Homo sapiens: one gene and its partners. The protein of the gene in region 3 interacts with the protein of the main gene of each other region in a biochemical or structural test. Each region holds a gene or a part of one and is shown on either strand. Other genes may lie near its edges. The genes, in order: CDH1, PDZK1, FARP2 and CDK6.

The links.
Region 1: the proteins of FARP2 (region 3) and CDH1 form a complex in vitro, tested with the Homo sapiens proteins (one study listed by BioGRID).
Region 2: the proteins of FARP2 (region 3) and PDZK1 form a complex in vitro, tested with the Homo sapiens proteins (one study listed by BioGRID).
Region 4: the proteins of FARP2 (region 3) and CDK6 form a complex in vitro, tested with the Homo sapiens proteins (one study listed by BioGRID).

What each region holds. Positions count from the first base shown.
Region 1 is NC_000016.10:68,732,426-68,740,306, reverse strand, and holds the start of CDH1 (cadherin-1 isoform 1 preproprotein), read right to left. Parts: upstream 3,016-7,881; 5' UTR 2,892-3,015; coding exon 2,844-2,891; intron 2,011-2,843; coding exon 1,896-2,010; intron 1-1,895.
Region 2 is NC_000001.11:145,683,360-145,690,381, forward strand, and holds part of PDZK1 (Na(+)/H(+) exchange regulatory cofactor NHE-RF3), read right to left. Parts: exon of another isoform or gene 6,750-7,022; coding exon of another isoform or gene 6,692-6,749; intron 4,665-6,691; coding exon of another isoform or gene 4,663-4,664; coding exon 4,453-4,662; intron 3,368-4,452; coding exon 3,118-3,367; intron 1-3,117. UniProt on the Homo sapiens protein: A scaffold protein that connects plasma membrane proteins and regulatory components, regulating their surface expression in epithelial cells apical domains.
Region 3 is NC_000002.12:241,351,731-241,359,296, reverse strand, and holds the start of FARP2 (FERM, ARHGEF and pleckstrin domain-containing protein 2), read right to left. Parts: upstream 3,013-7,566; 5' UTR 2,909-3,012; intron 1-2,908. UniProt on the Homo sapiens protein: Functions as a guanine nucleotide exchange factor that activates RAC1. May have relatively low activity. Plays a role in the response to class 3 semaphorins and remodeling of the actin cytoskeleton.
Region 4 is NC_000007.14:92,721,565-92,728,586, forward strand, and holds part of CDK6 (cyclin-dependent kinase 6), read right to left. Parts: intron 4,230-7,022; coding exon 4,062-4,229; intron 1-4,061. UniProt on the Homo sapiens protein: Serine/threonine-protein kinase involved in the control of the cell cycle and differentiation; promotes G1/S transition. Phosphorylates pRB/RB1 and NPM1.

The DNA of each region.
Region 1 (7,881 bases), on a different chromosome or scaffold from region 3:
ATGACTTCCAAAGTTCAAAAAAAAAATGTAAAGACAACAGCGTGATTGCTAAAGATTCATGTGGTCAAAGACTGGAAGAATGACACAGTGGAGGTGTTCCCTCAGGGGAATTGTGGGTGATTTCTCTTAAAAAAAAAATGCCTCTTATTGTGATACCCAATCAAGTAAAATCATGAGAGAGGAGAAAGTGGTTTGATATAAAGGAAGCACTTGGGATTCAGTGAAACCAGAAGAGAAACTAGCCCCTTCCCTTGCTCCCTGGACAACAGTCAAGTGGAACAAAGCAAACTCTAGATTGTCACAACGATAAGGCCTAGAAGTACATTGGGTGTATGCATTTTCATCCTGAGTCAGAACTACCATGCTTTTTTTAAAAAAAGATCATTATTCCTGGCCAGGCGTGCTGGCTCATGCCTGTAATCCCAGCACTTTGGGAGATTGAGGCAGGTGGGTCACCTGAGGTCAGGAGATCCAGACCAGCCTGGCCAACATGGTGAAACCCCTTCTCTGCTAAAACTACAAAAAATTAGCTGGGCATGGTGGTGGCACCTGTAATCCCAGCTACTCAGGAGGCTGAGGCAGGAGAATCACTTGAACCTGGGAGCCAGAGGTGGCAGTGAGCCGAGATCACGCCATTACACTCCAGCCTGGGCAACAAGAGTAAAACTCCATCTCAAAAAAAAAAAAAAAAAAAAAAATCATTATTCCTTGGGGGAAACAGTACCTGTATCAAGATGTTTTGGTCCAGGCACAGTCTCTCAGGCCTGCAATCCCAGCACTTTGAGAGGCTGAGACAGAAGGATCCTTTGAGCCCAAGAGTTCAACACCAGCATGGGCAACATGGAGAGACTCCTGTCTCTAAAAAAAAATTTATTTTTTATTTATTTTTTGAGACGGAGTCTTGCTCTGTCACCCAGGTTGGAGTGCGGTGGCACTATCTCAGCTCACTGCAACCTCTGCCTCCTGGGTTTAAGCAATTCTCCTGCCTCAGCCTCCTGAGTAGCTAGGATTACAGGCACACGCCACCATGCCCGGCTAATTTTTATATTTTTATTTAGTAGAGATGGGGTTTCACCATGTTGGCCAGGCTGGTCTCGAACTCCTGACCTTGTGATCCGCCCACCTCGGCCTCCCAAAGTGCTGGGATTACAGGCGTTAGCCACTGCGCCCAGCCTAAAAAAAAGTTAAAATTATCCAGGTGTGGTGGCACATGCCCATGATAACCAGCTACTAGGGAGGCTGAGATGGGAAGGATCACTTGAGCCCAGAGGATGGAGGCTGCAGTAAGCTATGATTGTGCCACTGCACTCCAGCTTGGGCAACAGAGCAAGACCCTGTCTTTAAAAAAAAAAAAAAAAAAAAAAAAAAAAGCTTTTATATCTGTAAACAAAAGCCACAGCCCAGTAACCAAGAGAGGGCTGCTCTTCAGTCATCCCAGAGATGGTGCTTAATGGGGCCTGGGAGTCAGATCCCAGTTCAGATATCTGCTCTGCTGACCCTGAGCAAGTGGACGTCACTCTCTTAGCCTCGGTTTGCTCAACTGTAAAACGGGAATACTCCTGCCAGGCCTTCCCACCCACCAGGTTTTTGCAGTCTGAAATGAGAGACTGTCTCTACAGTGCTGAGGGCAATAAGAGAAATACGAAGGCTTCTAGTAAGTGCCCTCAACCTCCTCTTCTTTATAACATAGTCAACAACCAGGCAGGGTTACCCCCTCCACCACAGTGTTCAGTCGTAAACGTTTGGATCCCCAAATCTGCGTAAATTCCAAGGGGTGTCGTTTGAGCCAAGGAGGGAGCTTGCCCATTGCAACCCAGGGGTGTGGGAGTGCAATTTCTCGGCCCCTTTCCAACCCCTCCCTACTCCGCCCAGGGACACCGGCAGCGCGCCCTCACCTCTGCCCAGGACGCGGCCTCTCTCCAGGTGGCGCCGGGGCACCGTGAACGTGTAGCTCTCGGCGTCAAAGCCAGGGTGGCAGGGCTCCGGCTCCTGGCAGAGCCAAGAGGAGACCTGGGGTGGGGGAAAGGTAGATGGAACCGGGTGACTCGGAGGGTTCCCTCCTGCTCACCGAAACCAACAGCGCCGCCCCTCCCTCGCTCCCGGCGTCGGGATTGGGGGAGGACCCCAGCCCGCAGCCCCGGGACGGGCGGGCAGCGACGTCACCCTCCCCCACCCCGAAACCTACGGCCGCCGAGCCCCCAGGAACTCCCGGGAGGGGGCCGCCGAGTCACCCCCTCAAGACCTAGCCCACCGTTCCCTTTCAGTCTCCTTTCTCATTTTATTGGAGATGTCTTTATTCTCCAGTACCCCACTTTCCTTAGACCGGGAATGCACCACTCCTCAGAGCGAGGGGCGCTCCCACCTCCTCCGACCTCACTTTCTTATCCCCGGGACCCTCACTCCTATTTACGACCTTTCTTGGCATGGCAGGTGCCTTTATTTCTACGGATGCCCCTCTCCTTCCCTCGAAGATCGTCCCCACGACTCCTGGCTCCCCCTCGACTTGCACCAGGGCACCCCTTCTCCACACCCCACCCCCTACACCCCGCTTCACGCCCCCACCGCCCGCGCGAGCCCACCCCGCGGACTCCGCGGCCAGACGCCCCCGCCTCGGTCTGCGCTGGAGGGGGCAGGAAAGCCGCGCTCGCCCCTCACCACCCACCCCCCACTCCCATCACTGGGGGGTCCGGAGCGCGCGAGGCTTCCAGGCCGCTCCGCTCCTCAGGACCCGAACTTTCTTGGAAGAAGGGAAGCGGTGACGACGGGAGAGGAAGGGGCGCAGGGCTGGGGCGCGGAGCTTGCGGCCCGAATGCGTCCCTCGCAAGTCAGGGGATCCGGGGTACCTGCAGCAGCAGCAGCAGCGCCGAGAGGCTGCGGCTCCAAGGGCCCATGGCTGGCCGGGGACGCCGAGCGAGGGCAGGCGCCGGGTGCGGTCGGGTCGGGCCGGGCTGGAGCGGGCTGGAGTCTGAACTGACTTCCGCAAGCTCACAGGTGCTTTGCAGTTCCGACGCCACTGAGAGGGGGTGCGTGGCTGCAGCCAGGTGAGCCCCGGAGGCACCGCCCCCCGTACCGCTGATTGGCTGAGGGTTCACCTGCCGGCCACAGCCAATCAGCAGCGCGGACCCCTCCCCAGGGCGGAGCTGACGGCCCGCCCACCCGGCCTCGCATAGACGCGGTGACCCTCTAGCCTGGAGTTGCTAGGGTCTAGGTGGGTTATGGGACCTGCACGGTTCTGATTCCACTGGGTTCGAATCCCAGCCCCGCCGGTGGCTCACTAAGACCTGGGATCAGAAAGGGCTTTTACACTTGGCTGAGTTCTTTTGTTTTTTGGGATTTTTTGTTTGTTCGTTTTGGAGATGGGGTCTCACTCTTTCACCCAAGCTGGAGTGCAGTGGTGCGATCACAGCTCACTGCAGCCTCGAACTCCTGGGCTCAAGCGGTCCTCTGGCCCCAGCCTCTCTAGTAGCTGGGAGTACAGGTGCACACCACCACGCCAGGCTAATTTTTTTTTCTTTTGCCTTTTTGTAGAGAGACAAGTCGGGGCGGACAGGGGCAGTGGGGGCGCTGTGTCTCCCTGTATTGCCCAGCCTGGTCTCGAACTCCTGGGCTGAAGCGATCCTCCTGCCTTGGCCTCCCAAAGTGCTAGGATTTCAGGTGTGAGCCATGAGCCACTGAGCTAGCAGCCTAATTTTTTGTTTGTTTGTTTTGTTTGTATTTTTTGAGACGGAGTCTCGCTCTGTCTTGCCCAGGCTGGAGTGCAGTGGCACGATCTCGGCTCACTGCAACCTCCGCCTGCCGGGTTCAAGAGACTCTCCTGTCTCAGCCTATTGAGTAGCTGGGACTACAGGCGTGTGCCACCACACCGGCTAATTTTGTATTTTTAGTACAGACGGGGTTTCACCATGTTGGCCAGGCTGGTCTGGAACTCCTGACCTCAGGTGATCCACCCTCTTCAGCCTCCTGAAGTGTTGGATTACAGGCGTGAGCCACTGCACTCTGCCTCGAGCGGCCTAATTTTTTAAAAAATTTTTCTAGAGAGGGGATCTCACTATGTTGCCGAGGCTGATCTCAAATTTCTGAACTCAGGCGATCCTCCTGCCTCAGCCCCTTTACTGAGTTCTCATTTTTTAATCTAGTCTTTTTTAACTGTAGAGCTTCATGGGTTAGTGAGTCAGCAAATTGATTCCCTAGGTCAGGACCACCTCCCAAAGCCTCAGTTTCTCCACCCTCCTAATGGGAATAATGATCAGAAATGTCTCCCTATGCTGTTGTGGGACTCCCATACAATTAAAATGACAAATGTTTCTTGAGCCATAAATGCTCTGTACAGAAGTGAGGGGTAAAAATAGTAACAATAGGGCCAGGCATGGTGGCTCACGCCTGTAATCCCAGCACTTTGGGAGGCCGAGGCGGGCAGATCACGAGGTCAGGAGATTGAGACCATCCTGGCTAACGCAGTGAAACCCCGTCTCTACTAAAAATACAAAAAATTAGCCAGGCGTGGTGGTGGGCGCCTGTAGTCCCAGCTACTCGGGAGGCTGAGGCAGGAGAATGGCATGAACCTGGGAGGTGGAGCTTGCAGTGAGCCGAGATCGCGCCACTGTACTCCAGCCTGGGCGACAGAGCAAGACTCTGTCTCAAAAAAAAAAAAAAAAAAAAAATAGTAACAATAGGTGCTGGACATTGAAGATTACTGTGCCAGTCTCTGTGCTAAGCATTTGACACTGACCAGCTCTTTTTTTTTTGAGACGGAGTCCTGCTCTGTCGCCCAGGCTGGAGTGCAATGGTGTGTTCTTGGCTCACTGCAACCTTCGCCTCTTGGGTTCAAGCGGTTCTCCTCTATCAGCCTCCTGAGTAGCTGGGATTACAGGCATGCGCCACCACGACTGGCTAATTTTTGTATTTTTAGTAGAGACAGGGTTTCATCATGTTGGCCAGGCTGGTCTTGAACTCCTGTCCTCAGATGATCCACCTGCCTCAGCCTCCCAAAGTGCTGGGATTACAGGCATGAGCCACCGTGCCCAGCCACTGACCAGCTCATTTAAGCTCATTTCAAAACAACCCAAGAGCTGTATTATTATTCCCATATGATAGATGGGCAACTGAAGCTTAGAGAGATTGAGGCCAATGAGAGGTGGCGCAGGACTGGAACCAACCTCTCTGATTCCAGGGCCTTTCTTCTAACAATCAGCTTCATCTCATGTGGTCCCAGTCTTCCAGCTGGAGCTGCAGTTTTCAGTCTGTTTTTTGATGTTGACCTGGAAGAGACCTTTAGAGTTCACCCAAACCTATGATTTGCAAATAACTTGTTCAATGTCACATAGGCAGGTCAATGTCAAAGCCAAAGACCAAAACCCAGGATCTTCTGACCCCCAGAGTGGGGCTTTTAATGCCACAGCCACACCATGGCCACCATCACCTTCTCCAGAGAATTCTGTCCCCAGTGAAATAATTTTAGGATCAAAAATAGAATAGATAGGGGCCAAAGGTCTCAGGTCCTGGGCCAGTGGCCCTCCAGCACCCGCCGTCCTCCATCAAAAGACAAAAACAGAATAGACAGGCAAATGTTAGGTTAGACAACTTCCCTGTCTGACTCCCTGTGGCCAGCCACGTCTGGGTGGCTTGTCTACCCCGACAAGGGCACCTCCTTTCCCTTTATCCTTCAAGCATGGTTAGAACTACACAGCATTAAGTGGAGTCAGCCACTCACTAGCCCTGTGACCTTGGGGAAGTCAGTGTTCTCCTTTGTATAAGTGAATTGGCATGAGCTAATACAAAAACAATCGCTAAGCAGAGTTCTTGGCTCATCATAGCAACTGCTCAATAAATATTTGGAGTAGGGGTTACTCTTTCAAAAGGCCCAGCCCCTATTTCGCTTCCTCCTGGGGAAAGCCATGTTTGGAATATTTCACCCAGAGCTAAAGGTGCCTCTGAGTCCATCAAGTAATTTCTCAAATGCAGACGATTTCTGGGCAGCCCAGCACCGCCCCCCCCAACAACCTGTCCCCTCAATTTTAATGAGTTTCCAATCAGGTCTTTTGGATGTCGTATTTTGGCTCCCTCTGCTCTTAACCCACCAGGAGGCTCAGAGGGAGAAGGCTCCGGTATTTCCTTTCCCACTAGGATCGTGCCTTGAACAAGATAATGGAAATACAGAAAGAGGCGTTTCCCCCATGGGGCTGTACTGTCTGCTTATTTTTTTCCTCTCAGTTATGTAAAAATACATATTTTATACCATCGCTGGGCCCTGGGAGCCTTTAGGGCTTTACTTTCTTCTACCCAGCAAGCCTTGGCCTCGTAACTCTGCAGCGACTCTCATCGACTCTTCCATTACACTCTGATAATTCAATAAAAAGGATTTTAGAAAACAATTAGGGGCAGCAAAGTCAGGTCAGGCCTGATGCATTCTTCAGACTTCTCGGCAAGTCCTTCTCCAAGCTCCAAAGACAGTAGATCAGGTGTCCAGGGTGAGGCGGGAACACAGAGGGGCTCCTTGTGGAAGACAGGTGCTGTGTGACTTTCGCAACACACTGAATTGCTTCTCTGTTTCCTATTTATTTATTTAGTGACAAGGTCTTGCTCTGTTGCCCCGGCTGGAGTGCAATGGCGCGATCTCGGCTCACTGCACTCTCTGCCTCCCAGGTTCAAGAGATTCTTGTGCCTCAGCCTCCTGAGTAGCTGTGATTACAGACACACGTCACCATGTCTGGCTAATTTTTGTATTTTAGTAGAGACGGGATTTCGCCATGTTGGCCAGGCTGGTCTCAAACTCCTGACCTCAAGTGATCCACCTACCTCAGCCTCCCAAAGTGCTGGGATTACAGGTGTGAGCCACTGTGCCTGCCCTCTGTTTTCTCTTGTATCAAACAGGGATACCTAAGCAGGCCTGGTGGCTCACAACTGTAATCGCAGCACTTTGGGAGGCTAGTTGGGAGGTGAGAAGATTACTTGAGCCCAGGAGTTTGAGACCAGTCTGGGCAACATGGTGAAACCCCATCTCCCCAACAAATATTATTTTGAATTAGCTGGACATGGCAGTGCATGCCTGTAGTCCCAGCTACTCTGGAGGCTGAGGTAGGAGGATCATTTGAGCACTGGAGCCACTTCACTCCAGCCTGGATTCACTTCTGGCTCTGCCATTAGTTGAGAAGCATAAGTCATTTTATCTCCACCATCTTGGTTTCCTCATCTGTAAAATGGGAATGTTGATAGCACTTAATTCATAAGGTTCTTGTAAACACTCTGCAAAGGTGAGTGATTAGCCCTCTTGGCCCAATACATTCCCTTTCCAGTTCTAGGAAAAATTGTGAGCTGCCTGGAGCCTCCCCTCCCCCAGGCTCTCCTTCCCCCACCCCCGCCACTAAAGCTCCTCAGGTTATCTCTTGCATCTACTGGAGAAAATTCTTTCATGCCGGCCAGCTCATCATTTCGAACCTCCCAGGGCCATTTGCACTTTAAAGAGGGCTCTAGAGAAAGACTTTTCTTCTTTCAAAGGAGTTGTAAATGCTGTCCAGGGCTTTTAACCTGGTGTCTGTGGATGGGCTCTGGTGGGGTCCCTGAATCCCCTGAGACTGTACACAAACCTGTCCGTGCAGGTGATAAGGCCCATTGCTTTCCTAACATCTCAACTGGGGAAAACCCAAACTCCAGGAGTTGAGCTTTCTCTGAGATCTTGCTGAGATCCAGCGCTAACAGTGGAATTTCAGGCATCACTGGGGAAAAGAAATGTTTGGCCAGAGGCCTTGCCCTTCAGATCACCGCAGATAGATAAGAGACCCTGTCACCTGGCAGATAACAGACCCCGCATGATGGGATCACAGACTCCAGGTTTCCTTATGGCAGAGGACAGACTTTCACTTCCTGGGTGTTTTGGCCACTGGC
Region 2 (7,022 bases), on a different chromosome or scaffold from region 3:
CTGCATTATTGTGTCATACGCCCTTTCTTTGCATTTGTAGAATCAGAAAGCATCTTTACCATTCTCTCCTCTTCAGTTTGTACTATTATATTAGCCATCGTATGCTGTGGAGTCATCTCACCAATGTAGGCTAACAAGGACAGGCACAGGAGGGAGGGAAGAACCCGAATGCATTTAGGTGGTGAGATTTAGGTGCTACTTATAGAAATGCTGTCAATTCTTCAAAGATATTAATAGAGCAGTTCCCCCTTAACCATGGGGGATACATTCCAAGACCCCCAGTGGAGGCCTGAAACTTTAAGATAGTATACCGAACCCTATATGTTTTTTCCTGTGCTTACATACCTACAATAGAGTTTAACTTATAAATTAGGCACAGTAAGAGATTAACAATAACTGAGCTAATCTTAGCAACCTCAGCATACAGTATTTTTTCTTTCCTTATTAAATCGAGAACTTTTCACTTAATAGAAGCACTTTACAGCCTTTTTTTTTTTTTTTTTAACAGATGGAGTCTCGCTCTGTCACCTAGGCTGGAACGCAGGGCCGCAATCTTGGCTCACAGCAACCTCTGCCTCCCCGGTTCAAGCGATTCTCCTGCCTCAGCCTCTCGAGTAGCTGGGACTACAGGCGCCTGCCACCGCGCCTGGCTAATTTTTGTATTTTTAGTAGAGATGGGGTTTCGCCATGTTGGCCAGGCTTGTCTCGAACTCCTGACCTCAGGTAATCCACTCGCCTCGCACTCTCAAAGCGCTAGGATTACAGATATGAGCCACTGTGCCCGGCCACTTTACAGCTTCTCTTTGTCATATCTGAACTGCCAGCATCACTATCCTTGCATTTTTGGCTTTTTTTTTTTTTTTTTTTGAGACGGAGTCTTGCTTTATCGCCCAGCCTGGAGTGCAGTGGCGCAATCTGAGCTCACTGCAACCTCCGCCTCCCGGGTTCACACCATTCTCCTGCCTCAGCCTCCTGAGTAGCTGGGACTACAGGCGCCCACCACCACACCCGGCTAATTTTTTGTATTTTTAGTAGAGACAGGGTTTCACCGTGTTAGCCAGGATGGTCTCGATCTCCTGACCTCATGATCTGCCCGCCTCGGCCTCCCAAAGTGCTGGGATTACAGGCGTGAGCCACTGCGCCCGGCCTGAGCTATTATTTTTTATTGATACATAACATTTGTACATATTTATAGGGTGTGTGTCATATTTTGATACCAAGAGCATATAATGAACAAATCAGGGTGTAATATTTAGGACATCCATCCTTGAACATTTATCATTTCTTTGTGTTGAGAATATTTCAAATCTTCTTACAGCTATTTTGAAATGTACAATACATTGTTGTTAACTACAGTCACCCCACTGTGCTATCAAACATTAGAACTTATTCCTTCTCTCTGTGGGTTTGTACCCATTAACCTAGCTCTCTTCATCCCCACCCTACCCCACACACATACCCTTCCCAGCTGCTGGTATCTCTCATTCTACTCTCTACCTCCATGAGATTCACCTTTTTTAGCTCCCACATATGAGAATATGTGATATTTTTCTTTCTGTGCTGGGCCATTATTAAGCAAAATAAGGATTATTTGAACACAGTACTTTAATACCGTGACAGTTGACCTGGTAACTGAGTAGTAAGTAGTAAGACTAACAGGCAGGTAAGCACATGCCACGTGGAGATGCTAGACAAACAGAGGATTCATGTCCAAGACGGGGCAGGACAGCACAAGATTTCATTACACTACTCATAATGGTTCACAATGCAAAAATTATGTATGGAATTTTCCATTTAATATTTTCAGACCACAGTTGCCTGCAGGTAAGGTAACTGAAACTATGGAAAGCCAAACAGGATAAGGGGGGACTCTTGTATGTCAACCTAGGCAAGGGATCGCTTGCTAATGACTACATAAATCACTTGTAAGGAATGACAATAACTTAAACTCTGCTTCCTTAAACACTCAGCATTTCTCCTGCTACCTTGTTATATATTTGTCATGAAGAGACCATTTTCCTCATAAAGCTAACCTAAACCATTCACCATGTGCATTAGCACATGAGCCAGATGAGTAGAATCTGAATTATGATTTTCTTTTTTTTACCACTTTACTGATAATAGGCTTCTAAGACGTGCCAAGCTTCCTTTGACTATACACACCACTGTGTTTAATAACTGACAGACCTGAGAAATACCCCTTATCGTGAGTTTACATCTCTTGGTACAGGTTAAATAAGCCTTAGAAACTATTTTAAATTTACCACTGGTCTGCTGCTGTATCACTTGCCAAATCATGACCTACCACCAGTGCTTCTCCAGCCCCAGAAAGAACATAGGCAGAGGCAGTGTTCAAGAAGGAATTGACCAGCTAACACAGCTCCTCTGGTTCCAACCAATACCCCAGAGCCACGGTCAACTGAACACAGGTTAGTCTGCACCTCTGAAATTCTAGAAATAGAACTTCTGGTGCTTCCTGATGGTCAGGGTTTCTCAAATCACTATGTACCTCTTAGCCAGAGCTCAAAGATGCGCCTCAGAACAGGTGGGGCTGAGCCGCAGCTGAGGGTACTATCAAAATGTTACAGGAGGGTGGAAATTTTTGCGGTATTCTCAGCAAAGGTAACAGTGCCTGGCACATCAGCAGGTGCTCAAGAATTTGTTGAATAAATGAATGACTATCTGGGCACTCAGATAAAAAAAAGATACCAATCTTACTCAAAAATAGCTATTATGAAGAATCTCATTTTTCTTGCCTTTTATTCCTTATTCTGCCCTTCATTTTCACCCTAAGAGGGCTAGAAGCATCAACCCTCTGGCCCCCTGACCTCAAAGAGTCCTCAAGTGCCAGCCTGACAAACACTCAGGGACAGGAGTACCCAGTGCCCCCCACCCCCACTGCTGTCCAGTGTCCCTCCCCCATTGCACAACTGTGCAAGGCAAGGGAAAGGGCAGGGAGGGAGTGAGAGACGGAGGGAGGCAAGCTGTTGCAAGCTATCTATAGCAACTGAAAAGTCAGTCAAAGAAGAAAAGTCATTAACCAGTAGCATCTTTGTTCTGGAAGCCTGTTGTCTGTGCCCTGCCCCTGCCTCCCCCTGCTCCCCAAAAAATTCTCACCTTGGACAGTTTTCAGAGAGAAGCCATAGCTGCCTCCTTCCTTCACGAGATAGCAGAGCCGGGGCTGGGTCCAAGTTTGCACACCTCCATTCATCACAGGGGAAAGTATATTATCACTCAAACCTTGCTCCTTCTGACTTTGACCCAACTCTTTCAAGTCCACCCGTGTTTTCACTGCTTTCTCATAGGAATCCCCATCCAGAACTAGTAAAGTCACTGAATTCCCACTCTTTCTGACCAGATCCACAACCTAGGAGGGAAGAAGAAAAAGGTAACTTTAATAACCCTCTGCCAACTGCCAGAGGGAAATGCTGACCATCTGGCTCAATATCTGGCCCTGGAGATGCTGCTAGTTGACCCTTGACACCCAAGTAGAAGCAGGTAGTTCCTCAGCCACCTCCATCCCTGCCCTCCCGAGATCCAGGTGCAGATTAGGCTGAGCTTCTGGCACTGCTGGAATATAGAGTGTGGTTCAACCCCAGCCCAGAGGGTTCTTACAAGACTGGTCCTTTCTAGAGAGGAGCGCTGCCCTAGATTGTAACCATTCCTCCCGTGTGCATGGGGACAGCACAGTGTAAGGAAAAGACCATGCTTTTGGAGTCAGGCAGAATAAGGTAAGGCCAGACTCTCCCATATATCCTCAGCAGGAACATGTTAGCAAGCTAAGATATCTGTACTTAGCTTCCTAATCTGTGAAATTGTAACATATACCTTATGAGGTCATGATGAGGACTTAACAAGATAATGAATATAAAATTGCTGGCCGAGCGTGGTGGCTCATGCCTGTAATCACTGCACTTTGGGAGGCCGAAGCGGGCGGATCACGAGGTCAGGAGATCGAGACCATCCTGGCTAACACGGTGAAACCCCATCTCTACTAAAAATACAAAAAAAAAAAAAAAGCTGGGTGTGGTGGCGGGTGCCTATAGTCCCAGCTACTTGGGAGGCTGAGGCAGGAGAATGGCATGAACCCGGGAGGTAGAGCTTGCAGTGAACCGAGATCGCACCACTGCACTCTAGCCTGGGTGAAAGAGCGAAACTCCATCTCAAAAAAAAAAAAAAAAAAAAAAATACCTAGCACCATTTTTGGTATATAGTGAACATGCAATTCATGTTAGACCTAACGCTATTCAAATCCAAGAGTAATGTGTACAGTTCTTGGTTCCTCATAGGGGACTTGATTGGCCAACACAAGGTACAGCAATAAAGGTGTCCTGCCTTGCCAGTGGCAGCCAGGAAAGAACCAAACTCTACCAACCCCCAAAATTATAATCAGCAGAGAAGATGTGGGGGCTGAAGAGATCCTGGAAGAAAAGCCCCAAATGTCTCATTCACCTGCATATGTTCTTCTTTGTCCACAAAGACACCATTGATCCTAAGAACTCTGTCTCCATCTTGAAGGCCAGCCTTCTCTGCTGGGCTACACTTCTCAACCACCCGGACCAGGTGGCCCTCGGTGTCCTTCTCAATTCGCAGGAAGAAGCCATAGTTTTGCCCTTCTTGCTTGGACAGTTTACATTCTCGGGGGTTGAAGGTGGAGGTCATTTCTGTGATGAAAAAAATAAATTAATAAAACCATGGAAAAGAGAATCTAATTGGAGTGAGAACCCCATCCTCCATCTCCTATAATTCTGTTCTTCCAATCACCAAATCTAGACTGCTTGGGTAGTAATGCTGGGGGCACAGGAGGACACCTTCCAGAACTTGCTAATGATTTCCAAATCTGTTTCCCCAAGGACAACCTTTTTACTAGAGTTTCAGACCCACGTATTTTTTACTGAGTACTGGACACAGATGCTTCCATTTCAGTATCTCCAACCAAACTCCTCTTTGTCCTCTGACCTAAAGAAATTAAGTCCAAATACATGACCCAAAAAATTTATGACAAGCCCACTCTCATTCAAACATTTGAAGAGCTTTTCAAGTTCAAGGAATCGAGGTTAAATCTGTAGACAAGATGGACCCATACCTTGCCTCTTCTATTGGGGAACATTATTACATTCCTATAACCACACGTGGTGAGTGTCATGCTGGGGAAGAATGCAGTGATAAGGGGGAAAATAACAAAGGGTCTTGGGAATAGGGAGCGGGATGGGAAGAACAAAGAACATTTCCTGAAGGAATGACACTTCCAAGAACTGAAGGATTAGTAGAAGCTTGGTGAGGTAGGACAGGACAAGGAAGAGCTTAAACCATTAAAAAAGGCAGGCACAGTGGCTCACCCCTGTATTCCCAGCACTTTGGGAGGCCGAGGCGGGCAGATCACAAGGTCAGGAGTTTGAGACCAGCCTGGCCAATATGGTGAAACCCCAGCTCTACTAAAATTACAAAAATTAGCCAGGCGTGGTGGCAGCCACCTGTTGTCCCAGCTATTCGGGAGGCTGAGGCAGGATAATTGCTTTAACCTGGGAGGTGGAGATTGCAGTGAGCCGAGATCACACTGCTGCACTCCAGCCTGGGCAATAGAGTGAGACTCTGCCTCAAAAAAAAAGGACACCAGGCCTTAGAGCTGGTCCAATATGTTGGAGATGCACTAGAAAAGGCTGTTCTGGCCCCTGAAGTCTCTAGCCACAGCAGAAAAGAGATGCTCGATAGAAAAGGGATTCCAGTGGCTAGGTTGGGGCTCTCCCTCCCAGACGCTTTGTCACCCAGGCTGCAGTGCAGTGGCGCAATCGCAGCTCACTGCAGCCTCGAATTCCTGGGCTTAGGCGATCCTCCCACCTCAGCCTCCTGAATAGCTGGAGCTACAGGCACATATCACTATGCCCTGCTAACTAATTTTTTTAGAGACAGTGTCTTGCTTTGTTGCCCAGGCTGGTCTCAAACTCCTGGGCTCAAGTGATCTTCATGCTTCAGGCTCCCAAAGTGCTGGAATTACAGAATGAGCCCCCATGCCTGGCCTGAAGCAGCTTCTATTTCCATTCATCCTGCCCCTCCTGTTGCCCCATTGCAGGGGCAAGGTCCTGAGCCATAGGAGGAAGACAGGACAAGTGTAAAACCGACAGCTAGGGCTCCGGCACACAGTTATTATTAAGGGTAAGACTTCTGCCAGTGCCCCGACACCTGCTGGCTGAAAGCTTTTTCTTTTATAGGAGAATAAGAACAGGGGCCAGAACAGCAAGAGGCTGATACAGAAGGCAGAAGGCTCACAACAGAGCACTGGAGTCTGCTCTTCACACCACCTGCAAGGCAAGCCCTCAAGTTCCTCTCATCACAGTTCCCTACCTACAAATCAGAATAAACCACCTATCCCTTCCCTCCTGGAGGGACAAGAACGGATGACCACACAGGATATGGGGGAGGGTGAAGAATAGGCCACAAAGTGCTCCAGGCACCCTAGAAGCCATGGCATGGTGATTGAAGATAGCCATCCCTGACCTTCATGCCCACAGAGACGTACAGTACAAATCAGACAGAGAGCCCCCAGCTGCCCAATACCAGGCCTCTCCTGCAGTCTCCGCAAAGTCTGAAGCCCCACGCCACCAGTGGCACGAGTGACTAAGTAGCGAAGAAAGAAGCAAACAAATAGACTCCCCATCGAGCATTGAGGCAAGAAAACAGCAAAGCCACTCACCAGTGGTCAACACCAGCACCTTGGGAGAGCTAGGCAGCTCTGCCTTATCAAAAGCCATGACCAGCTGCCAGGAAAACACCACTCTGGGATGAAAGGAGAAAATATGGCATCACCAGAGTTGAGTCACATCCAGGCACCTGTTTGTGGCCCATTCCAGCTCCCTCACCTTTCACTCCTCTTTCTGCTGATCCCAACCTGCGAGCATCAGTTCAGTTTCAGCTTGAGTTCACATCTATGTCCAAGCTCACCTGTAGATCCCTACACCTTTCCATTTCATAGGGCCAAAAGACCCCAAAAGAAAAAAAATCAGAAAAGAAAGACGAGGTCTCAA
Region 3 (7,566 bases):
CATTATAGGGCCTTTTTGTTTTTGAATTTTAAAATGGCAATAAGCTAAAACACCAGTTTAGGGGAAAACAATTCATGACTCTTAAAATAAAACCACTTACAACACTCTAACTACCCTCCTGATCCTGTTCACCTCCTCATGTATTTTTACAACACTATGATTGCTGTGTACACACCATTTCAACTTTTCAGTTAAGTCACATTTTAAAGCATATTTCCATGGATCAAAATGGTTCAAATTTTCCTTGGATGGGAGGATGGGATTCAGCTTGTGGAAGCATGTTTACTTGCTATGGAGTACTCTACCCTACTGACACAACAAAGTTTATCAGATTGTTTTGAAAAGTGTGATTCCAAAATCAAAATCTTTGCCACATACTGCTACTTTCCAAAAAGATTAGACCAATTTATAGAATCACTGTCAACTAAACGCTCCCCAGAAAATCACCAAAGACTGGGCTTTATCATATTGCTTTGTAGGATCCTCAACTTTTCAACTCCCTGTGGCATTGACAAATACGCTATGGTCAAAGGACTCTATATTCTGATCTCAGAGAACATGACCGGAATTACCTCAGCTCAGTATCCAACACTACAATGGGGTTTTGCCTGTATATCTAGCACTATGCTGTGTTTATGAAGCTCATGACGCACTGAGTAAAGGGGAAGCTGGCAAGCTGATATGAAAGTGGGTGAAGGAAAAATAAGAACAAAACTGAAAGGACAAGCAGCAGTAAGAAAAATCTGTTACTGTCCGAATATAGAAGAGGTATTGATGTGACTAGAAGCAGGGGTGTTTGGAAAGGAAGGAAGCAACTGAATTCTTTGGGCCAAATGGATTTAAATGAGCTCACATGGAATTGCCCATGCATTGATCTTTGCTTTGGCAATCCAGTTCATACCATTCCCTCTAAACAGGATAAATTTGCTTAATTATTGCCTAATTTTTTCTCTACTGTTTTTTGTAAATATCCAGGGTTAGCTTGTTCTACTTTCTACTCGGATTATTTGTCCACCTGATAATAATAATGGCTAACATTTATTAAGCACTTACCTTGTGCCAGGCATCTTGTTAACACAGCTTTTTTTATTTATTTTTTTATTTTTTTGAGACAGAGTCTCGCTCTGTCGCCCAGGATGAAGTGCAGTGGCACAATCTTGGCTCAATGCAACCTCCACCTCCTGGGTTCAAGTGATTCTCGTGCCTCAGCCTCTCAAGTAGCTATGATTACAGGCGTGCGCCACCAGCCCAGCTAATTTTTGTATTTTTAGTAGAGATGGGGTTTCGCCCTGTTGAGCAGGCTGGTCTGGAACCCCTGAGCTCATGCAATCTGCCTGCCTCGGCCTCCCAAAGTGCTGGGATTACAGCCACTGTGCCTGGCCAAGTAAATTTTAAACTCATTTTTTGAATAAGGAACCTGAGGCAGAGAGAAATGAATACACCTTATATCAACTTCCTCTTTGGGAAAGGAATTAGTATACAAGGAACCTGGAAATTTACTAACGACTGATAGTCCTATAGGTAAATAAGCCAGCAAACGTCTGCAGTCCAGGAAACTGCATCATCAGCATTTAGTTTGTTAACAGTGAACCACCTAATGAGAATCTGCAACAAGGATAGGGCACATGAGAAGTACAGATGGTATTTGCAAGTACCCTAGGTGTGACCCTAAACTGGTCATTCCACCTCTCTCAACCTCCCTTTCCTCTACTTTAAAACGGGGCTGTGCAACTTGGTCATGTCTCTGAAGAGTTTTGGAAAACTGAATAAATAACGAGCATGAAGTGCTTCCTAAACCTTTAAGGACCTCAAAAAACAAAACAAAACAAAACTTTCAACAAGCAGATGTAGAAAATTTAAATTATATTTGGCCTACAAGTAAAGGTTACTCCATGCTTCCCTACCTCAAATGTCCTCTCCCATCTCTCTGGTACTGAGAAAATCTGTGTCGCCTGTTATAAGGCAGTCTACACAAGACCAACACGCTAACCCACTGCCACCTCAGGGTTATCAAACATTTACACAGTGGCCCAGACAAAAATATCCCACGGAAACAAAACAAAAACAAAAACCCAGAGAGAAAAACCACCCTTTAAAGATTTGGCCTTGGGTTTTAAATTTGCCCATCCCTTTTTAACACTATGTATTGACAATCTTTCCTTCAATGATGCCTTGTTCTAATTTCTGCTTTTCACATCCATTAATGGCACATGATAGGCCAGGGGTTGCTGCCATAGCGTAAACGGAAAAGGTGCCCGTAATTCGGGTGTGTAATGTACTGGGCCATATTCTGGTCCCCAGTTTTCATGGGTTTCCCAAAGGCTACCCACTGGCTTATGAGTATTTCTAGCCCTTAGTGGAGTAAAAATATTAACACCTAACACTTGATTCCCACCTTTAAGATACAATTTAAAGAAATGCTAAAAAGGCAAACGGCTCAAAATGCCTCCACCAGGCACCTCCAGGCCCATACCCTGCGGGTCCCTATGGCCCACTCTGGGGTGTCCTTCCGGGATGGGACACTCCCCGGCCCACGGCCCTGCCGGCCTCCACGGGGCACAACTCAACCCGCGAGTCCACGCGGGACACTCCCCGGTCTACAGCCCCACCGGCCTCCTCCACGCGGCACCCCTCAACCCGGGAGTCCACGCGGGCCACTCCCCGGCCCACCGCCCCGCCTGCCCCCACGCGGCAGGCTCCCTACAGACGGACGCTCCTCTAACCCGGACCCGCCTAGGAGCTCCAGCCGCCTCACGATGGCCTTCAGAGGCCGGGCGGGACCATCTCTGGTGGACCGCGGCCTCAGCGCCCCCCCCGCCTGGGCCTCTCGCCTCGGGCCTCGGGCTTCGCCGCCCACCCGGAGAGGCCCACCCCTGCCCCACGCGCCCAGGCCGCTTCACGTCCTCACCCTCGGCCTCTCGCTCGCCCGCCGCGTCCTCACCGGCCTCGCCCGGCCTCCGCAGTCGCAAGCAGCAGCCGCCAGACTCGCGTCGGCGTCGCCTGCTCCCAACTGCCCGCCGGCAGCCCCCGCGCAGCGCGCCCCGCCCTGACCCCGCCCCCGCGACGCGGACGCGCAGTCGATTGGCCTGCGGGGCGCCAGGGCGGAGCCTTCCCGTCCCGCGGCCTGAAAGCGCAAGATCGAGTTCTGATTGGTGAACGGACGGAGAAGGGGCGGGAGCAGGCAGGCAGCTGCGTAGGATATAAATCTGTGCAGCGCTCGGCTCGTTGGGCGGGGCGTCGGCTTGCTGAGCGAGGCAATGTCCTAGGCGAAGCCAAGGCTCGCTGGGCGGGGCTAGATCTTGGGCGGGGAGTCGGCTCGTTGGGTGGGGCTAGGTCCTGGGCGGGGAGTCGGCTCGCTGGGCGGGGCTAGGTCCTGGGCGGGGAGTCGGCTCGCTGGGCGGGGCTAGGTCCTGGGCGGGGAGTCGGCTCGCTGGGCGGGGCTAGGTCCTGGGCGGGGAGTCGGCTCGCTGGGCGGGGCTAGGTCCTGGGCGGGGAGTCGGCTCGCTGGGCGGGGCTAGGTCCTGGGCGGGGAGTCGGCTCGCTGGGCGGGGCTAGGTCCTGGGCGGGGAGTCGGCTCGCTGGGCGGGGCTAGGTCCTGGGCGGGGAGTCGGCTCGCTGGGCGGGGCTAGGTCCTGGGCGGGGAGTCGGCTCGCTGGGCGGGGCTAGGTCCTGGGCGGGGAGTCGGCTCGCTGGGCGGGGCTAGGTCTTGGGCGAGGTCTAGGCTCGCTGGGCGCGGATAGGTGCTGGGCGAGGCCTAGGCTTGCTGGGCGCGGATAGGTGCTGGGCGAGGCCTAGGCTTGCTGGGCGCGGATAGGTGCTGGGCGAGGCCTGGCTCGCTGGGCGGGGATAGGTCTTGGCCCGGGCCTTGCCGGCTGTCCTTGCACCCTTTGGCTCAGTCCCTGGCTGCCAGCCTCCTCCTTCCTCCAACGCATTGCATCCCTCGTGGGACTACAGGGACCGAAGGGGATCATCGAAGGATCGCGCGAGGCTGTGCTAAGGCTGAGACAGGCTGCTCCGTGGTGGCGGCCAGGACGGCCTTCCTCTGGCCTAGGGACCCCCACCCGAGAATGGAAGACTGACTTGCTGTGGCACACTTCCCTTCTCTTGAGAAGTTCATTGAACTCCTATGTGTTCTTCAAGACCCTACCCATCGTGCTCTCCTAGCCCGGCCCTGTCACCCACTGTCACCATGTGGCTGTTGAGGGAATAATTAACTTCAGGAAACACCCGGGCACTTAAGAGACTCCTCCTATGGTGCTGTGGATTCCAGAGTGAAACCTGACCCTTCGTTTCCCAGAAGCCCAGACAGGAGAAATGCTGGCTCAGGGGAACCTCCATTTCTCCTGAGACAACTATGGGGTCTGAGACCCAGGCACACCAAGACTGGGCTCAGCTGTGCGGGATGCTCCCCTCATGTGCCACCCACCTCTGGGGCTTTTCCTTTAACCAACCCCCAATGACACCACCAGGCCCAGAGTGGTGCACACACCCCAGAACAGAGGATCCCTGCCTGCAGACGGGCAGGGCCGGGTGGGGATAGTGCAGGTGAGAGCCTGGCCAGAGGGTGGTACTGACCCCTGGTAGGATGCAGGGTGTGTGCTGGTGACCTGAGGCTGGCAGTCTGGAGGGAAGGCAGCAGGCGTGGCAGCTGTCAGCTGAGGAACTAGAGAGAGCAAGTTTCAGTATCCAGGGGTCTGTCTATAAGGAAGCTCAGAAAACACTGATAGCAAGGTAAAAGGGGCCCAAGGTGGTCCTGGGATGATCAGTCCAGTGGGCAGGAAGAAGGCTAGAGGCCTTGGAGTGTAGGTGTCCAGCCACCCAGATCAATTCAGGTTTCCAGTTTCCTTTACTCAAGTGGCAGAGCCGCCTTAGCCTATTCTTGAAAATTTATAGGTTAGAAATTTCTTCCTAGATATATTTCAATCATTCACTTATATTTCCAGTAATTTAGTAGTTGCTATTATCAATGCGATTTCTTTTCTCACTACATTTTCTAATTAGAAAATAGATATCACTGACTTCTTAGTGTTAATTTTCACCAGATGTCTTGTACTTTCTAAGTAGATGTTCTGATCACCTGTAAATAATTCCTTTCCAATCTTTTGTGCTTTCTTTTGGGCTGGATCTCCAATACGTACAAACTTGTCCAGTACTGACACTATTGATTCAAGTAATTTTTCTTGATTTTATACAAAGATGTTGTCAAGACTTTGAATTTTCCCAGAAAACCTCACAACTTTCCCTTGCAAATAACCAAGAGAAATACTCATTTAATATCTAAACAATAGTGCTTTATTGATAAAAGGTTAGTTTAAATGGATACAAAATTGCTGTGTAAAATAAGTGTTTTCAAAATACATTTCTATAGGTAGAGACTATGTCTTAGTAAAAGAGCAGTTATCTATTATCAAAAGTATCTATTTAGATTTGGGTAGTAAAACCAAAGGGGATCAGAAGTGTAGCAGTGTGGGTCCTCCCTCCCTGCATAGCTGTTACCAGGAGGCAGCGTGCCTGAAGTACTTTCACTCACATATGCGGGGCTTAGTCACTAGCAAACTTGTTTTTCTTTTTTACAGATTTTCCAGCAAAGTTATTAAATGTCAAACTCAAATAATGGACTCCGCATGGATGTACTCTGAAGTCATGGAACACCACTTCTTAGTTACCTTCACACAATAAGCCATAACATATAGCTTTTGGCTGTTCACAATTAAGCAACAGTGAAGGGCAAAGTTAGCAAGAACACCAGATTATTTTCTGTAGCACACCTTCATTAACTATTATTATTTAACTGCCTCATTTTATGTTTTTTCTAGCCCCCACAAAAATGAAAAAACCCTGTCTCATCCTCAGATTAAGCATTTTCTCCATCTCCCTACACAACCATTGTCTCCTTTCATCTGTCAATTTCTGGGGTTGAATTTCCCAACTTCAGTAGAAATGATAAAAAAGGCAACCGCTGGAGTGTACCATAAGGAGACACAAGAAGAAAGGTGACACTAAGGCTACAGTGCACAGAAAACAGACCAGGTGTGGCTTCGACTGTGCGGACCTGCCCACTAGCCTATGCTACAGATTTGAAATGTCTTTCACTTTGACATGACACACGGTTTATATTACACAAAATGAATGAAACGACAATGGCTAAAAATAAATGAGACAGCCTGCACACAAAAAGATGATGACTGCTACTTTCCTCCCATCAGAAAATTACTCAAAAAGGGAGTATTTAAAGGAAACTCAAATCAGGAGAACCCGGTAGGCATCAGAGGTTCAGGGCACCAAGGCCTTAGGGCGGGAACACTTTTCAACCCAAGCCAGGCTTCAGGGGCACGCCCACCAACAGACCCCAATTTCCACAGGGGAGGCAGATCTTCTATACCTACAGTGACAGAAAATACACTAAAGTGCAGTATAAAATATAAAAAGGTTTGATTCTGAATAGACCAACTGCTAATTTTCCTTAAAAAAATTTTTAATTTGGTTGAGTAAAAACCAAATTAGTTCACTGAATCTCATTTTGTAGGTAAGAGTCTTATTTGCAATACGAAAACTGGAGCTTATGACTGCTTTGATTTTCTCTGTAGCACAGGATAACCAGTATTAGTGGAGAACACTACAAAAGGTGGCTTGTGGTGAGTTCTTTGCATAGTGGTTTTAAAAACAACCTAGCATCAGAATTAAGAGACTTCTTTAAAACTCACCTCTAAAAAAGCTGTTTAAGTATAAAGATATATCTCATTAGGAAATTCTATTATGTTTTATTTGGTTAACAGATAAAATCGCAGACGAATCAACAGTATAGAATTATAGCAGCAAAACTGGTTTTAGGTGTTGTGTACAAACATAAAAGCAAGGAAGCAAAGATCTCCAAGTGGTGTGATGTGGTAAGCAGATGGCCTTGCACCAAGTCAGTGTATCTTTCTACATCACTAGGCACACACCTCTACCACTAAGGAACATTATGGTAAATCTGAATGTTCTAGATAAAAATCAGGAGTGCTCATCAATGGTTAGTCAGTTGTTAAGTCAGTTAAATCAAAGAAATTCAGTATTAAGTATACATGCCGATTCTTGGAAATCAATTCTAACATTAGTGGTTAGGGAGAAAGAAAAGGAAGACATTCACCTCACAAAACACAGAGTGTGACACAGCAATGAAATACATACGTTAAAAGTACTTCATACAAAAACACATCAAAGTCTTTTAAAAATTAAATTCTCAGGCACAGGTACTGTTAAAATGTGGATGGCACCCTCCCAAGGATTGAAAACACACAGCTGGATCATGCATCTGGAATGTTTTCTTTTTTATCCAGGAAAGTGTTTTCTAGAAAAAAGAAAACAAAACACACTTAAGTGGGAGTGAGGCAATGTCTGCTGCGTTAATTATTAACAGTTCTACTTTTCTCCTTAACAAAGGTCATAAACTGAGCAAAAGGCAGGGCTTACATGACCACAAAGTTAACTAAACCAAAAAGCCATTCATGAGGCTCCTGGAAACTGGAAATGCTGCAAAACTAGAAAGTATACAGAAATAAAATTTTATCGATCTAAAAGTAAAAT
Region 4 (7,022 bases), on a different chromosome or scaffold from region 3:
GACACTATATTGAGCAGCAAGAACCCAATACCCCATAAAGACACCAGAATGTCATGTTGGAGGCAGCCTGGCAAAGTTAGGCAAAAGACATTTAACTCTTTGATTAGTCCTCAATTTATCAGATGAGGACAAGATAAGTCATTCAGCCCGATGTTGCATACCACCTACAGCTACAACTATGGTCCAGGCTACTGTCCTAAATTAATTTCTACCAAAGGCCAACATATGAAGTATATTCTACTTATGAAACTCGTGTTTCTTAACAAGAAACTTGTTTTCACTAGAAAAATAAAATAATAAAGATCATAATATAAAGGGTTATACCTTAAGATGCCTGGAAAGCTTACCTGTCTAGAACAACTAATTTCTCAATTAATCCAAAAGATGCCTTGTCTTGAATACTGGCATAGAGCATACTGGCTCAGAAATTAAGGAGAAGTAGTACTTCAGGATCTGTCAGGTGATCATGAACTTAAAATGAAAATAAATACTGTTAACTGCTCCCTCAAAGTTCTATATGTAAGAACATTTTGAAGTTTTCAGAAAGAAGCTAATAATACAAGCTTTTATAATTGTTCAAATAGAAATATCATTTATTATGTAAATATATATATATTAACATAGATAGTAAAAGTTGTCTAGTAATTCACCCATTCTTTCATTTAGAGGATGTTAATTATCTTAGAAGAATATGACTCCTCTTCTAAAACTTGCTTTAATAACAAAACACAAGGGGCTAAAGAAAGTCTTCAAATAAGTAAAATTACAATAATGCTACATTCCTCTATCTCTACAGCTTTCTGTTCAGGACAGGAAGTTCAATTCATATATGTAATTTGTTCCTGAGGCAGTAGAAAGGATTATGATAAAAACAATACACAGACTGTGAACTTGGGTTTGCGTCAACTTTTCACTCCTAACTTGAGATTGAGCTACAGCATGTATTAATAGCTTTCATGATTTTGAACACAGATATGTGCTGCCAATAAATCAATCAGGACTAGGGTGCAAAATGGACTCAGCCATTTTAAGGTATATGGAGTAAGTCCTTCAGCTTAATATTACCAGGTAGCTATGAGGAATATTGACACACATCAAATGAGACCATTAAATGTATAACATAGCTCCTTCTCTATTCCTGTTATGACTCAACTGCTTATATCTGCAAGTCAGCATTTGTCAATTTATTCACTGAAAAATATTTCCTGAGTGCCTATCAAAATAAACAAGGCACTGTGTGTTAGGGCTGAATAAGATGAGCATCTGCCTTCGAGGAACTTATGGCCTGATAAATAAAATTCCCAAATAACTAAAAACAAGACAGAAAACAGTATTATAGGCTGGGCACAGTGGCTTATGCCTGTAATCCCAGCACTTTGGGAGGCTGAGGAGGACGGATTACTTGAGGTCAGGAGTTCAAAACCAGCCTGGCCAACATGGCAAAACCCTGCCTCTACTAAAAATACAAAAATTAGCCTGGGGTGGCCTGTAATCCCAGCTACTTGGGAGGCTGAGACACGAGAATCGCTTGAACTCGGAGGGCAGAGGTTGCAGTGAGCTGAGATAGGGCCACTGCCCTCCAGCCTGGGCAACAGAGTGAAACTCTGTCTCAAAAACAAAAACAAACAAAAAAACCCAAAATATTACTCTGGAAACAGAGAGGAAAAAGAAATTAATTTCTGAAGGGGATACTAGAAAGGGTACCTCTGGAGTCAGGCTTTGCAAGGTAAGTAAAATACTAGCATTTCTCATAGTTTTAAGATGTCAGTTTTGAATCAGTTAACTTGTAATTCCTTTAACATTCCACAAATTAAGTTGATTCTCAGTTCCTGTATGACATAACCCACTAAAAAATGTGTATTTCCAGGAAGAGGAGTGTAGTCTTTTTCTCTTCAAGAGACACTAAAAATACATACCAGTTCAGTCTAAAAAACTATGATTCCAAGTTTTTATGTCACCATGTGTATATAAATCGACGCATTACTATATTAAATGGGTATTTCCTTTAAATAGAAAAATACAAAAGAGTGGGGAAATTTTAAAATGCAGTACCCTGTAGGAACATACCCTTTATTATTACCATTAAATTCCAACCGTCACTCTTTCCAATAAAGTCTGATTTTTGTTTTAGAATCCTTCTCAGCTGCTAACATGTTTTACTTATGTCACTATAGGAAATATAAAGCATGCAGTATAAACTAGATACTGAAAAATTGTGTATTTATGACTGCCTTTCTCCTTTTCCTCTATGAAATAATTTGTCTACATTTTCCTGTTTGAACATATCAACTTTCAGCAAGAATGGAATGTTAATTGATGTTACGCACAAGCTCAAATTTAATAAGCAAAAAAAAAAAAAAAAAATCAAACACAAACCAACTGGGTTTCCTGTTTTTATTTATGGTTATTAGTGCCCATTTGGGGGGATTAAAATAAAAGCGTCCATCTCAGTTACAGCTTATCCTTCCTTCAATTAACGTACCCAAGGAGACAAGTTCCTTCCATCTACTCCCCTGATGACTCTCTGGATCACAAAGCCTATTCAAGCTTCTCCCCAGGGCCCCAAAACAACATGCGCAACAACTTCCTAGGGAAACTCAAAGCCTACCTCACCCTTCCCACTGGGGAAATACACAGACTCAGCCCTTTCTGGTGTGATTACATAAGAATACAAGGGCTTGCTTGACCGTGCTCAAAGCTGAGGCCTATCTTTTAAACATCAACTCGTGCCATTTCTCCTCTAAAGCAATGGTGTATGCTGGGCAAAGAGGAAATGAGTAGGATTTATCTTCTAACAATGGCAACATTTTCCAAGGAATCCTCTGCATCAAAAGTTCTGATGCCCTAGGAAAAGTCTATAATGTTTGGAAAGTAACTGGTCTTACGTGTCTAGGTGGTAGCACCCCTATTTTGACTGGGGGCAGGGGGTGGGGAACACTTTTATAAATTGGATTTTTTCCTAAGGCAAGTTATCTGTCTCAGAGAATTTCTAACTCCTCTCTTGAATTTCTACTTATCAGCTGTAGTATTACTGAAATTTAGGGAAACAATTTTTTGCTGTGCAGAATGACCAAAGATGTTGCCAATCATTACTTAACAACAGGGCCATGCTGTCCCTGATGTGAGAACCACTTTGAGGCTAAAGATGGACAATACGGATTATTTTTTTTTATTTCTTTGAATATACAAAGATATTTTCTTTTTTAAAATTCTTTTTCTTAAGACTTAATTTGCTATATATTATTTATTTAATTTACTGTACGTAAGGCATGAATTTACTGTATGCAAAACAGGTCTTTCAAAGAGAAGGGTATTAATACCTATTTCCAGGCTGCTCTTTTTGTATTTGGGGTGCAGAATTTCACAAAAATCCATCTGAGAAATAATGAACTATATGGAGAAATAGAAGCTAACCAATGTCAATAGCTATTATGGTTTTGCAGCTGAATGGCAAAAAGAAACAGGGTATCATAACTGTTATTTTTTGCCAAAACAGGGCCGTTGGGTTCGCTCTTTCTATTCAGGGTTATATGAGCCTTCACCTGGCATGGCGGTGCTCTACGTTCATGCATCATCCAAGTTCACTGTGAATTTGATTTCTTCTTTACAGCTGGCACCATAGCTTCAGATGAGTGCATTAACAAACCTGTGTAGGCACTCTGTTTCTCAAAACCATGATGCTGCAGACAGGTCAACGTTGCTCGTGCTCTTTCTTCCCTGACCTTGAGCTGTGTGTTCCCTAGGCATTGTACATACAGCTCTGAAAACAGTGGTTATGGCAGAAAGCATTTGGAAACTTGTAACTGATTCCTGTCCAGTGGCTAAGATGCAACAGGCTATTTCTGCAATGGATCCTGTCCACAACAAGCCCAGGCTGGATGTGACTGTAGCTGTAAGCAGAATGCTTTCTGCCTACCCACTGCCATATAAAAATGGGCAAAGACATTCTATCCACCAACTAGTCATGGGCAGTACTAACATTAGAGACATGGAAGAGGGACAGACTGTCATTCAAAATAGGAAAAATAAGTTTAATAAAAGGACAGCACTCTCTCACTCACCACTGAGGTTAGAGCCATCTGGAAACTATAGATGCGGGCAAGGCCGAAGTCAGCGAGTTTTATTTGTCCGCTGCTGGTCACCAGAATGTTCTGTGGTTTTAGATCGCGATGCACTACTCGGTGTGAATGAAGAAAGTCCAGACCTCGGAGAAGCTGAAACATCATATCCTAATAAAATTAAAAAAAGAAAATCAGTAAACACTCAAAACGGAAGTTGAGCATTTGCTATGCTGGACGCCGAATCCTTAGCATTTTGTGGCTGCTTGGCATGCGGCAGGCATTTGACAGGTATTGGCTGAATGAGTGAATTGTCTCCCTTCCTGCCTTTCCACTCCCACACTTTCAAGAACACTGCAAAAAATTTCACTCTCAACCTGTATTTTATTAATGAAAGGACAATTTTAAAATAGTTTTTGATGGAATAGGAAACATTCTGGAAGGATATCTGCCAAACTGGTTTCAGTGGCTCATGCTGGGGAGAGGAAGGAGGAGGTCGTGAGGGGACACTTTTTGCTTCTCTATTGTTTAATGTGCCATTTCAACAATTAAAATCCAGTGAATAATAATATTGTTATTAATGGTGATTATTATTTTATAGCACCTAGTACTAAACACTCACTATATATCAAGCACTATTCTAAGCATTGTCCACTTAGTAAATAATTTAATCCACACCACAACATTTAGGTAAATAATATCATTACACCATTTTACAGGTCAAGAAACTGATACACAGATGTAGGCTACTAATTAGCCCAAAGTCATACTAGCAAGAGAGTGCTGATTAACTGTTTGTTTTTTTTTAAACAGGATCTTGCTCTGTTGCCCAGGCTGGAGTGCAGTGCTGTGATCACGGCTCCCTGCAGACTTGACTTCCTTGGCTCAAGAGATCCTCCTGCCTCAGCCTCCCAAGTAGCTGGGACCACAGGTGCATGCCACCATGCTAGGCTAATGTTTTTAGTTTTTGCAGAGATGCGATCTCACTATGTTGCCCAGGCTGGTCTCAAACTCTTGGGCTCAAGCTATTCTCCTGCCTCAGCCTCCCAAAGTGCTGGGATTACAGGTGTGAGCCACCATGCCCAGTCTTAATCAACTGTTTTAGAATATTAACAGAGTCTTGATTTAAACTAGGGTCTGGAAAACCTCGATTCAAATCTCCAATGTATTCCTTTATCAAATCAATGAACAAATGAATACGTAAAATAAGGCAAGCCATTTAACCTCTCTAAGGCTTAGTTTCCCTGTCTGTAAAATGGGACAGTAACAAAGCCCACTTTATCATAGGATCATTGTAAAGCACTTAGCACCATAGTTAATATTCAGTAAATGGCAGCGCTTATTACTGTTATTATTAACCAGTATGGAGGAGCGGATCATTCAGGATATAAACCAATATCAGATCTTTTTCTAATTTTAGGACCAATACAAATATACACAAGATTTAATACTCAGGGACAGTGTCTGAAGGTAGGAACTAAGACATTGGCCATGATGTCATAATCCTCTGAAATGTGTGGAAATTAAGAGTGACCTACTCCCCTGACCCAAATATTATAAGAATGGTGTATACAAGGGAGGATGGAGCTGTTTTGTTAATACAAGGGTTAGAAAAATGACTGGGTACCACCATGGATTTCAGAGCTGGAAGGGGCTGTGAGGATACACTTATCATTGGCCGGACCACTGAATCCTCTCATCGAGAACAGTATATTTGGTTACTGGTTTATGGTTTTGGTTCTTCCTTTAGAGTTCGGAGTTCTGTCTTTATATTTTAGCTTGTTCAAAACCAAAGCCTTAGTTTTTCCTTTTATAAAGTGGAGAAAGTAGCGATTACTTTTCCTACTATTAAGGGGGCTAAATGAAGTAATGTATGCCAAGTGCTTGTACAGTTTCTGGCATATGGTAAGCACTTGACAAACAGTAATTATTAGGATGATTATTGCCAAGATAAGTGTCCTGATTTCTGGGGGAGACTGATTCACAAACAACTAAAAGAAAACATGACCACTGCTACAAGGTCGGTGTGAACAAAGCACTTAGAGGGGGTATGCAGTGATCTAGAATCATTTCTGAGATCCCCCTGAGTGAATATTCTGAACTGGCAGGGGTGACCTTCTAAGCTTCCCAAAACCCTGGAGAAGACTGCATTGGGGAGGAAAAGCCCTTCAAGACTTGAGAAGCACTGCAGGTCCAATAAGTTGTAATGAATAAACAGGAGTGTGAAAATGTAGCACAAAATGTTCAAGGAACATTTTGGCAAATAAGTCTTTATTGGAAACACATGCACACAACTTGTAAGCACTGAATTTTAAAAAGCATGACTAACCTAAAGTAATGTCCTGTTGGCTCATCATCTTTAGCCTCTATACAGTTAAGTGTCACTCATTTAAAACAGTATAAAGAATAAATCTGTTTGGTTCATGCTGCAGTGTTCAAACAACTTTAGCAGCCAATTAGCAGTATACAAATTTAAAAACATGCACATCGTTTTTATTTGTGTTATAACACACACTATGTTTTTCTTAATTATAAAATTGCTAAGATGTATAGATGCATGCTTAATGCAGAAACTAATAAAATGTTTTAAGAATCCAGAGAAGAAGAAAAATCACTAAAAAATTCCACTACTTGGAGAACAGAGAAAACTTCACTGTTAATATAACTTTTTTTGTGTCTTTTTAGTCTGTCTTTTAAAAATTACGTATTTTATTATATTTGGATGTATAAGTATATTTAAGTAAAAGTGGTTATTATTCTGTACACATTATTTTGTAGCTCTTTTAAAAACATGTAACAATTCATTATCAACATTTTGCCACTAATAAAATTCTGCAATATGACTTTTTTTATACAATGAGATTTTTAATGGCTGCATGGTTTTTCACCCTGGGACATGCCATAATTATTATTATTCAGTTTTAGTTGTGTTACTTTGGCACTTATACTACAGGTCTAGTTCTT